Linked DNA regions of Homo sapiens: region 1 is linked to region 2. The links come from fine-mapping of genetic effects on plasma protein levels. A gene starts in region 2. The other region holds a variant in brackets. All regions are shown on one strand. Distances are between the middles of the regions.

The links. PIP is the chance, under the fine-mapping model, that this variant and not a neighbour inherited with it causes the effect. Sun 2018 read protein levels with aptamers (SomaScan).
Region 1: its variant is fine-mapped to the plasma level of the TIMP4 protein (Sun 2018, PIP 0.95).

What each region holds. Positions count from the first base shown.
Region 1 is chr3:12,431,976-12,437,348 of GRCh38, forward strand. It overlaps PPARG (peroxisome proliferator activated receptor gamma), which reads left to right. Exons shown (of 8, transcript NM_138711.6): 8 at 1,923-2,369. The coding sequence ends at 2,170. Among named protein-coding and RNA genes, the nearest start is that of TSEN2, 50 kb to the right of the region's middle. The variant C/T (reference allele first, on the strand shown) is at 2,083.
Region 2 is chr3:12,156,838-12,162,210 of GRCh38, forward strand. It overlaps TIMP4 (TIMP metallopeptidase inhibitor 4), which reads right to left and starts at 2,075. Exons shown (of 5, transcript NM_003256.4): 1 at 1,865-2,075; 2 at 548-645; 3 at 1-97. The coding sequence starts at 2,003. It overlaps SYN2 (synapsin II), which reads left to right. Exons shown (of 13, transcript NM_133625.6): 6 at 4,709-4,771; 7 at 5,175-5,317.

The DNA.
Region 1 (5,373 bases), 280 kb after region 2:
CATTTCATATTCTAAGACAATATCATCTACAACTTTATTCCAATATAAATTACTAAAACTTTACCATATAAGTAGTAGAAAGCCTGAATAGATAAAAGCTATGGAAGAAAAATTAAAGATAGTGATAGATTTATCACCAAGCTCAGATGGTTCTGCAAACAAATTCTAAGAAACCGTCAGGGAACAGATCATTACTGCGTTGACACAGAAGGCAAACCTCTCAACTTGGTGTATAAGGCTAGTTAACATTGTTACTAAAACAGGCAAAGAATGGCCCCCAAAATAACTCTAAACCAGTATCACCTACAAATACAAAAACTCTATATAAAATATTAGCAAGTGAGTACAAGAGTATAAGGAACTCTATTAATGTAATTCACTGTGCTAGGTTAAGATAAAACCATAACTCTTCAGATATCATAGCTCTTTAGATAGAAAAATGTAAAAGTATTTGATAAAAATTCAACAACATTCCTGACTAAAACAAATTAAAATTGTAAAACCCCTGGAAAGCCAGGAGTAAAACATGTTCTCCATAATCTATAGCAAACATCATAGTTGCTGATAAACCATTAGAAGCATTTCCTTCAAAGTTAGGAATAAAACAAGAATTGCTACTATTGCTACTATTATTTAATCCCATATTGGAGGTTTTAGCCAACACACTATGGCAAGAAGAGGAAATGAGAAAGGTTAATGCTGCAAAAGAAGAAATAAATAAAGCTACCATTGCTGATATAATTATCTATCCAAAAAAAGTAGAAATCCATGATTAAAAGCTATTTGAACTGATAAAAGTTCAGAAAATTGGAATTGTTTCAATATACTAAAATCAATTAGTTTTCTGCACATCAGTGGGGATATATTAGATGTAATGAAAATGAAGGGTCCATTCACAATAGAAGCTATAAAGTATTTGAGAATAAATCTAACAAGATCTACATAAAGAAAAAAGTAAACTGCTTAAAAGTAATTTAAGTTCACCATTTGCAAATTGAACTAAAGAAAAATCTAAAGAAGAACTAGTGAAAATTGCTTGCAATCTTACCACTGAAAAGAAACCTCTGTTAAAATGTATCAGTATTTTAAAACTGTGTTTTGTCCTTTGGAAATATGCCATATTAAGCAAACATAGCATAAGCAAATTAAGCAAAAAGACAAACCTTTTTTTAAAAGCATATTTGTGAAAAAAGCATATTTGAAGCTATGATAAGAAACTGAGTAGAAGCTATAAAACGTAGATTCATCAGGAAGGAGCAGAAGTTGAAAAGGAGATTTCTGGCTGGGCACAGTGGCTCATGCCTGTAATCCCAGCACTTTGGGAGGCCAAGGCGGGTGGATCACTTGAGGTCAGGAGTTTGAGACAAGCCTGGCCAACATGGTGAAACCCTATCTCTACTAAAAATACAAAAATTAGAAAGGCGTGGTGGTGAGCACCTATCATCCCAGCTACTCAGGAGGCTGAGGCAGGAGAATAGCTTGATCCCGGGAGGCATAGGTTGTAGTGAGCCGACGTCATGCCACTGCACTCCAGCCTGGATGACAGAGCAAGACTCCATCTCAAAAAAAAAAAAAAAGAAAAGAAAAGAAAAGGAGATTTCTGAGTAGAAACACGTTAGCAGAGGAAACTTCATTTGGGGAACAGGATTGTTTTGATGCCATGCTCCCTCAGCTGACCACACAGATTACATCCTGGCCAGAAAAAGGCCCTGCAAAGAGCTCTGATCATTTTGGTTCTGATTCCATCCTTAGTTCTTACCCATTATCTGCTTACCCTTCCTCCCCACCTATTTAAGATACAAAGCAAAACAAACCAAAAATACAGATGAGTTGCTTGGTAGAGCTGCCTAGGCCTCCAAGGCGGGGCCCAGAGGATTTTTTGACTGAACCCCCTGTTGTGTTTTCCATATGTGCTTCCCCAGACCGCCCAGGTTTGCTGAATGTGAAGCCCATTGAAGACATTCAAGACAACCTGCTACAAGCCCTGGAGCTCCAGCTGAAGCTGAACCACCCTGAGTCCTCACAGCTGTTTGCCAAGCTGCTCCAGAAAATGACAGACCTCAGACAGATTGTCACGGAACA[C/T]GTGCAGCTACTGCAGGTGATCAAGAAGACGGAGACAGACATGAGTCTTCACCCGCTCCTGCAGGAGATCTACAAGGACTTGTACTAGCAGAGAGTCCTGAGCCACTGCCAACATTTCCCTTCTTCCAGTTGCACTATTCTGAGGGAAAATCTGACACCTAAGAAATTTACTGTGAAAAAGCATTTTAAAAAGAAAAGGTTTTAGAATATGATCTATTTTATGCATATTGTTTATAAAGACACATTTACAATTTACTTTTAATATTAAAAATTACCATATTATGAAATTGCTGATAGTATTTGAAGACTGAGTCTTGTGTGTTTCCCACCCTAGCCCCCAGGCTTTCTTTTTTACCCCTTTTCCTTCTCCCCTCCCTCCCTCCATCCCTCTCACTCTTCCTCCCTCCCTTCCCTCCTTTCCTTCTTCCTTTATTTTTCTTTTCTTTCTTAGACATTTTAAAATATGTGAGTGGAACTGCTGATACACTTTCATTCTCAGTAAATTAATTTTTTACTCAATTTACAACTTTTCGGAACTCTGCATCTGCTTTAACAATCAGAACTAAGAAGGGAAGGGGAACTTCAGAATCAGAAACTGCTCAGAGCATGTGTTTTGTAGCCTGGATGTGCTGATATGCAGCATATCCCTGGGATTACCCAGAATTCAGTCTTCTTCCACAATCCTAACCGAGATTTTCACGCACCACCAGCAGCCTACTCGTATACTACCTACTAATCAATGCCACTGCGCACCCACAGAGCCAGTGGCCAGCAACTGAGCACTGCTAGAAACTCTGGGGAACACAGAACTTTTTTAAGATTTGGTATCTGCGCCAGGCATGGTGTCTCAAGCCTTTAATCCACGCACGTTAGGAGGCCAAGGTGGATGGATCGATTGAGCTGGTCTCTTGTTCGAGACCCTGTCTCCACAACAGTTTTAAATATTAGCCATGTGTGGTGGCACACACCTGTAGTCCCAGCTACTCGCAGGCTGAGGCGGGAGGATTGCTTGAGCCTGGGAGTTGAGGCTGCAGTGAGCTGTGATGATGCCACTGTATTCCAGCCTGGGCCACAGAGTGAGACCCTGTCTCTAAAAAAAGATAAAAAAGATTTGACACCTGCCAAAAAGAATTTACCGATTATAAACTGAGGAGAAAAGATTAATCTTTTTTCATACAGATTCAAATACGCAGATGAAATCACATGCCAGGTGAATGGTAAGAGTTTGTAGGAAGTAAGATGAGTGAAGATTGGAATCCCAGAGACTGAATCTGTGGATTTGCTGAAGAGGGCCTCAGGGAAGTGTTAGACTGGAATAGGTAGAGAGGAGGAGAAAAGACATTCCAGAGAAGCAAAATAACAGGAACACAATGAAAGAAAAAAAAAACTGAGGGAGAAGAGCTACTTTCTGTTTTCTCCTTCTGCAAGGCAGTTTTGCTGTGATTATTCCTGTCCTCCTCCTTGGGACCACTCTGTCCAGAGATCTCTTTTCTGAACTGAGAGGCTAACTATCCGCATCATTAATGGAATGCTTGCCTCCCAAGCAGATAGATTCTAAGTTCCCTGAAGGCGTGACAATCTATTCATTCTTGGCACAGTGAATAGATTCGTTGATTCAATCCACCAAATTCACTTGCATTGGCTACTCATGAACTCATCATACTATGTCTTTGAAGAATGCCTTACGGGGTGTCTAAGGGAGAGAATAGAGTCATGGGTTCTCCATTTCTGTTTCTGACTGGGCCAATAAAGCCCCTTCCTCATCCCTCTTTTCCACTTACCACTAGGGACAGAAATTAAAAACCATGGCTTCAGGCTACTAAAAGCCTAAACCAAACCAAATCAAACCAAACAACAACAACAAAATAAGGCAGGTTGGACAAGCTTACGAGTGTAACCAAACTATCTGGAGGTGTCTGTTGTGCGGGACGCTTATTTCCACTGACCTAAATTTCCCTGCCACTTCTCCCTTAATTTATCTTGCCTTAGGATATTTACACTCAGGAGACATAACTGCAGACTTGAGGTTTTCAAGCCAAAATATCAAGAAAGACCTGTTCATCTTTTGCTTAAAAATAACTATATCTCCAAAGAATCAGGTTATAGAAGTGAGTACTGACCCCAGCCCTAAAAATGTAGGATTCCTAACCCTTCAGGAGAGACCTTTCTGAGCTCAAACCTTTAGGATGACAGATAGACAAAGACTGAAGCCATTGTCTAAGTAACACCAAAACATTTGGAAGGAAAGTGACAAATTCAGTCAGTCATATGGCTCTTTTTTTTTCTTCCTTGATGCCAAACATCAGGATATTTTGAAACTTATTTTCAAACACCCAGATGACTGGCTAGAGTCTTCTGTGTAGAGAGCTGATGGTCAGGGATCTCTTGGAAGAGAGAATGTACAGGCAGTAGACAAGATAGAGTCCACTTCTGAGGCGCTCCCTTATTTACAAGCTTTCTTGAACAAAAAGTCTTTCAGCCCCGCTGCCTGGTCTCAGTTCCCACCAGCGCTCCGCAGCCCATCCAAGCCTTTCCACATTATCGGAGCTGTTGCTGCCAATGGAAGGAGGAAGAGAAACGCTCTCAGCTCTCTGGCACTGATGGTTAGCATTAAATGGCTTTTAAATCCTGGCAGCTTTCAAATTCCCATCTCTGACTTTTTCCCTGTGGCTTGGAAGATCATTTGCTAAATATTTGACAACACTTTATATTCAGCCTCCAAAGCTCCTGCTCCTTTCTCCCTCTTTCTCTCCCCCAGGATGAATCATAAGTTAACGAATCTGTCATCAGTTATTCATAGTACTTTCTCTGGACACAAACACATGTAGGGATGTGTGTTAATAAAAATAGGAAGAAAAGTAACTTTGGTCAAGAGTCAAGAAAGGGTTTCCAGGCTCCCACAAGAGCCCTCCCCCAGCACCTCCCTGGAACGGGCTCCCTTTTCCTTCCTCCCGCTGTGTGTGGAGCCCAGGAACGAAGAGGGGACACACAGAAGAAACAAAGCTGCACACCCTGTTTCTCCAGCCGCCATAAGAAATTAGGCTGGCCTGAGTTTCTGGCTCCTTTTTTACAATGTGGGTGCAGAGCAAGGAGCCTAGGAGGCTCAGGGTCGGAAGAGGTGGCAGCACTAGCTGATGTCACATAGCGAATTTCCAACTAGAGGAAGCCAGAGGGGCAGCTTCACCACCTCCACTGAGGGGCAAAGAGGGAAGGGGACAGAGGCATCTGTGGCGGGCTTTCTTGGTGGCTTCTGGACTCCAGTGACTTTTTCTTGGCTCCCTCGAGGCTAAA
Region 2 (5,373 bases):
TCTGGCTGTTGGCTTCTAGTTTCACACCACAGAGGGAAGAGTCAAAAGGCGTATAGATATACTGAACATCCTTGACTTTCTCAAACCCTTTGAACATCTGACAGGCAATTACAAAAAAAGGCAATATTGGGTCAGTGAGTGTACTGTATATATTAACAGACAAAAACCTCTCACTTCTCAGCCTAAAAATGTAAGCAAAAGTCTAGTTGAGGATTTTGTGTCCTCAGATGTCCCTACTGGGTTATTTTCTCTCTTAAAACAAAACAACAACAACAAAAAACACCTAAACCTTGGTTTATTCCAGTAGGTACCTGTAGTGGCACCATACACCAGCAGCTGTGGGACCAGATGGATGCTGAGGCCCTCCCTGGCAATATCCCTGGGATTCTATGGGCTCTGCCTCCAAATCTCATCCAGTTCCACTTCAGTATCTAGACCCAAGGATTACTGAGCCAGGCCACCTGAAAGCTACCAGCCCTCCCAGAACACAGACTCCACTTTCTCCATCAGCCTTAGGGGCTACACATCCCAGCCTGCCCCCATGTACCTTTATCTGTTTGATTTCATACCGGAGCATTTTTTCAGTGTCAGCAGGGTCTGCACTGGCCGGAACTACCTTCTCACTGGAGATTTTGGCCCGAATCACTGCATAGGAAGAGAAAAGAGGGAACCTTCAGCAGCTGGTGGGGGCAATACACCTGAGGTCTGGATGATCCAGGGTCCATGAAGAAGTCTATAGGGCAGTTCTTGGTTTTGGTGTGGCTGGGTTGTGAGCAACGTGATGTGTGAGAAGGGGGACCTGGAAACACCTCCCCTGCAGTCACTGGAAGTTCCAAACCCCTCAGGCTTATTAGGTCCTATAACCGCTAAGCTGTTTCTGCCTTTTGAACCAGTTAGTCTGGAGAGCTCTAGTTCTCCATAGCCGTTTGTGCAGTGGGGCACAGGGTAGGAGTCAGAGTAGAGAAGGGAGGAGGAGCCCCTTCAGGGCAGTCGGTGTGAAGTTTATCTATTGCTGTGGTCAAGGCCTCTCATCCCGCCTACAGTTGATATTAGTAAATGTTTATTGAATTCATAAATGTTCTGACCCTGCACTGAGGTATTGCATCTCTTGCCATTTGAGCATTAATAACCAAAAACTGTTGATGATGTTCTTCCTCTGTGCCTGGCCTTGCACTAGGCACTAGGCCCATAGATGTGATTAAGACAGGGTCCCCATCCTGCCGAGCTCTTGATCTAGTGGAGTGCACACGTGTAAAGAACAACAGCACAGCATAGTAGGAGCGCTAAGACGGTTAGAGATGCTGAGGCGGCACCAAGGAGCCCGGGAGCCTGCAGAGAAGGGGAGAGACCTAAGTTAGCCCTTGAAGGATGAGTAGGAGTCTGCCAGGAATTTAAGGGTGTGAGGGAGGGCATTCCAGGCAGAGGGAAGAGAAAGGACAGAACGTGTGTGTTGCCATAGGGGCTTGGTGGCAACCTCAGTTATAGGCCTGGACAGACACGGGTAGTTACAATGCAAGCCCTCTCCCCTCCCCTTTCTGTCCCCAGTCTAGTAGTTCAGAATAATCATCAGATAGCTCCGGTGACACCTTGTGTAATGACACTCCATAATTGCAGTATGGCCGGAGTGAGGGAGGTCGCTATGGAAGTCCCTGATGAAATCTTCATTTCCTTATGAATCAGTCAGGTTCTGGGCTTGCAAGGTTGCTATGGCGCCTGGTCCTTCTCCACCCATCAGCCTCAGCAAGAGACAACCGGTAAGAATTTGAGCTCCTCCCTTTTCCTCTGGACTCCTGGTGTACTGCTGGCCAGATACTAATCCCCCACAACCACCCCCTGCTGTGGACCTCGCGGACCTCGGACTCACCAAGTGCCGAGTGGCAGATGTGCTGCTGAGGGTGCGCCGGGGCGCAGCTGCATGCCTCACCCAGCCCCGGGGGCCGCAGCAACGCCAGCAGCCGCAGCAACAGCACCCAGCTTGGCGCGGGCCGAGGGCTCCCAGGCATGACACTGCAGATCCGCGACTGAGCCTGTGAGGTCTGGGGGACTGGACGGCCCCAGCAGGGCTCCTTCCCAAGGCCGTTGTGCCCCTCGCCCCAGGCTTTATGAGGTGGCCCTAAGGGCCAATCCCGCCCCGACGGGCTCCGCCTTCCTTTGGCTCTAGGCCACCCGCGGAGGCAGGACCCGAGGCTCTTCCGACCTGCATACTCAGTAAGATGCAGAGGGAAGCCTGGAAGGAGGCCCTGACCTCTGTTTCCCTGCCTAAGTCATGAAGCGATCTGGAAGCAGAGGGGAAGCACTGGGAGAGGGGATGGTGTCAAGGGCAGAAAGACGGAAAGAGCCACAAAGACAAATGCATGAGGACAGAAAAACTGAGGGCTGTGATTCAGGCAGAAAGAACAAGAGTGAGGAGAGGCACAGACAGAAAGAGTGAGACAGGCAGAGTCCCAGAGAGGCAGACAGAATTACAACAGGCAAAAGAGACAGTGACAGAGAAGGACGGACCCCTTGCTGAGCTGCACGCTGGGAATGAGACGAGCTACTCAGGGCTTCTTTCAGCTGCAGGAAGTGCTTTCAATGCCCTATTTATGAGGCTCCAAAGCAACAGCAAACAGTAATAGAACAGGACAGAGAAAGTTGGGGTGTGTGTGTCTTGGCTCTGTTGCCTGGGGGGTGGGGAGAGATGTCAAAGAAGCAGCCAGTGCTTTAGAAACCCTTTCTCACTCCCAGAGCCTCAGACTCTCCAGATAGCTGGAGACAGCGCTCTTGGTGTACAAAACACAAAGTGTCCCATCACTTAGGGCAAACCTTGGACCTCAAAGCCCTCTCGAGGCCCTAGACTACATTGATTTTTATTGCATGTCCCTTCTCACTGGAGACTCTGTCATGTTCTAGAAGGTGGGACAGCTTAGAAAACAAAGAAGCAGGCTGGGCGTGGTGGCTCACGCCTGTAATCTCAGCACTTTGGGAAGCCAAGGCGGGTTGATCACCTGAGGTCAGGAGTTCGAGATCACCCTAGCCATCATGATGAAACTCCGTCCCTACTAAAAATACAAAAGTTAGCCGGGCGTGGTGGCCTACACCTGTAGTCCCAGGTACTCAGGAGGCTGAGGCAAGAGAATGGCTTGAACCCAGGAGGCGGAGGTTGAAGTGAGCTGAGACTGTGCCACTGCACTCCAGTCTGGGCGACAGAGTGAGACTCCGTCTCAAAAAAAAAAAAAAAAAAAAAAAAGTAAAAGAAAAAACAAAGAAGCAGGGGACTTGGGGGTGACTGTGACCAGAGCCTTGTCTGCTGTTTGGGCACAGTGTTGCAAGCCTCCAAATCCCAAATCTCCATGGGATTATTGCTGTGGGATGTTTCCACATGGTGCTGGACTGGATAGTGGGAGGCTGGGTTCCAATTCTGACTGTCACTGTAGCTTTGTGACTTTTGCCTCTCTGGGCCTCAGTTTTTTCTTCATAAAGTAGAGTTGAACTACGTGATTTCTAAAGCCCTTTGAAGTTCTTCTTCCCATCCTTGGCTGGCCTCAACCAGGAATGCTGAGATCCTCAGGCCAGATACCCCCAGTATCTGTTCAAATCTTAGTTCCCATAGGAGTCTGACTTTTCATCAGGGTCAACATTATTTCCTTCAAAGGATACCTTTTCATTTTGATGGTGTTAGTGATATTTGAAAAGAAGGGAATTGAAAGAGAGCTGAGTCTGACTGAAAGATGAAATGCCCGGGTTAGCATCCAGGCTGGTTCTTCATACAATGTTCAGACCAAGATAGAGGCTGATGTACTATTTGAAGGGAGCTCAGAAAGCATCCCATCTGATCTCTTCATTGGACAGATGTGAAGGCTGAGGCCCAGTGAGATACAGTGACTTGTAGAAAGTCCGTGGCAGAAGAGGACTAGAGTACTCGTCTCCTGACATCTAGCCCAGTGCTCCTTCCACTCCACAATATTACTTCTTACATCACCATTTTGTAGCAGCTTGAAATCTTGCCCTTAGAGGATAATCCTTCTTTTAAGGTTTTGTTGCTCCTCTGTTAAAGTATGGCTACCTCAGTGTAGAGTTCGCTCCCCTAAGGATCTCTCTGCATTTATAAACATACTGAATTCTTCTACCGGCTCTCTTTCAAACCCCAAGCTGGGAAGAAATGGGCCTTCACATGCAAAGCCTTGTTTGGTGGTGAGATTGGGGTATTGGTGAGCAGTGAAGAGTGTGAAAGAGGGAGAAAACAACCAGGATCATTACAGGAAAGCTGGGCCTTTGAAGGTTGTAGGTACCAAGAGGGTACATGCTGACAGGGACATCAAGATGCCAAAGATGTGTTTTTAAAATAAAAATACAGGTTTATTAAAGTACATCTACATATAGTAAAGTTCACTCTTTCAGAGATACTTTCTTTTTTTAATTCTCTTTGTCTGAGGGCCAGTCCTGCCCAGGTTTTGTCTAATGCAGAGAAAATTGACAGTGCATTTTAAAGATGTAGGGTATACCAAATAAGAGTACAGGGTTCTTGTAGCACTGCCACTAATATGCTCTGTGACCCTGGGAACTCACTGTCATTCCATGGGTCTCAGTTTTTTAATCTGTAAAGCAAGTAGATTGGACTAGTTCTTTAAAGAACCCTCCCAAGGGTATTCCCAAGAAAAATATGTGTAGGATTCCACGGAGAGATGGGCACACTCTGACAGTTTATTCATTTCTCTTCTGATTTCAGCTGACACTGCCCACGTTCCCTGTGGTGGTGAAGATTGGCCACGCTCACTCAGGCATGGGCAAGGTGAGGCAGAGAGGCCTGCTGTGCTTCAGGGTTGAACCAAGAAGGGCAGTTTTCAGAGCGCCCATTTGTGAACTGCTATTCTCCCTCTGTCACTGATGAATTCTTTCCAAAGAGAAGATGATTTGCCACCTCTAAAGCCATGAGTGTCACCCAACCAGACCTCTTTCAGTAAGCAGAATGCAAGCCACCTGCTTGGTCCTCTGGGTCCTTTGCAGCAAGTGTGGCCCTTGAGTTCTGGGAAGGGAAGCTAGGGAGAAGGGGCCTCCTGGGGAGATGTGGCACCCAGATTAGTGTCTGGATCGGATACATATTGGTGGGTTTGGAGGCTCAGGGCCCTTGTGACTTCTCAGTGTGTGTATGTGTGTGTCTCCCTTTCCCCCTTTCTGCCCTGCTCTAACATTAGGTCAAAGTGGAAAACCACTACGACTTCCAGGACATTGCCAGCGTGGTGGCTCTCACCCAGACCTATGCCACTGCAGAGCCTTTCATTGACTCCAAGTATGACATCCGGGTCCAGAAGATTGGCAACAACTACAAGGCTTACATGTGAGTAAGAGTGGGGTATGTTTTCTCCTCAGTGATGATGGAAAAGCTGAGCCTCC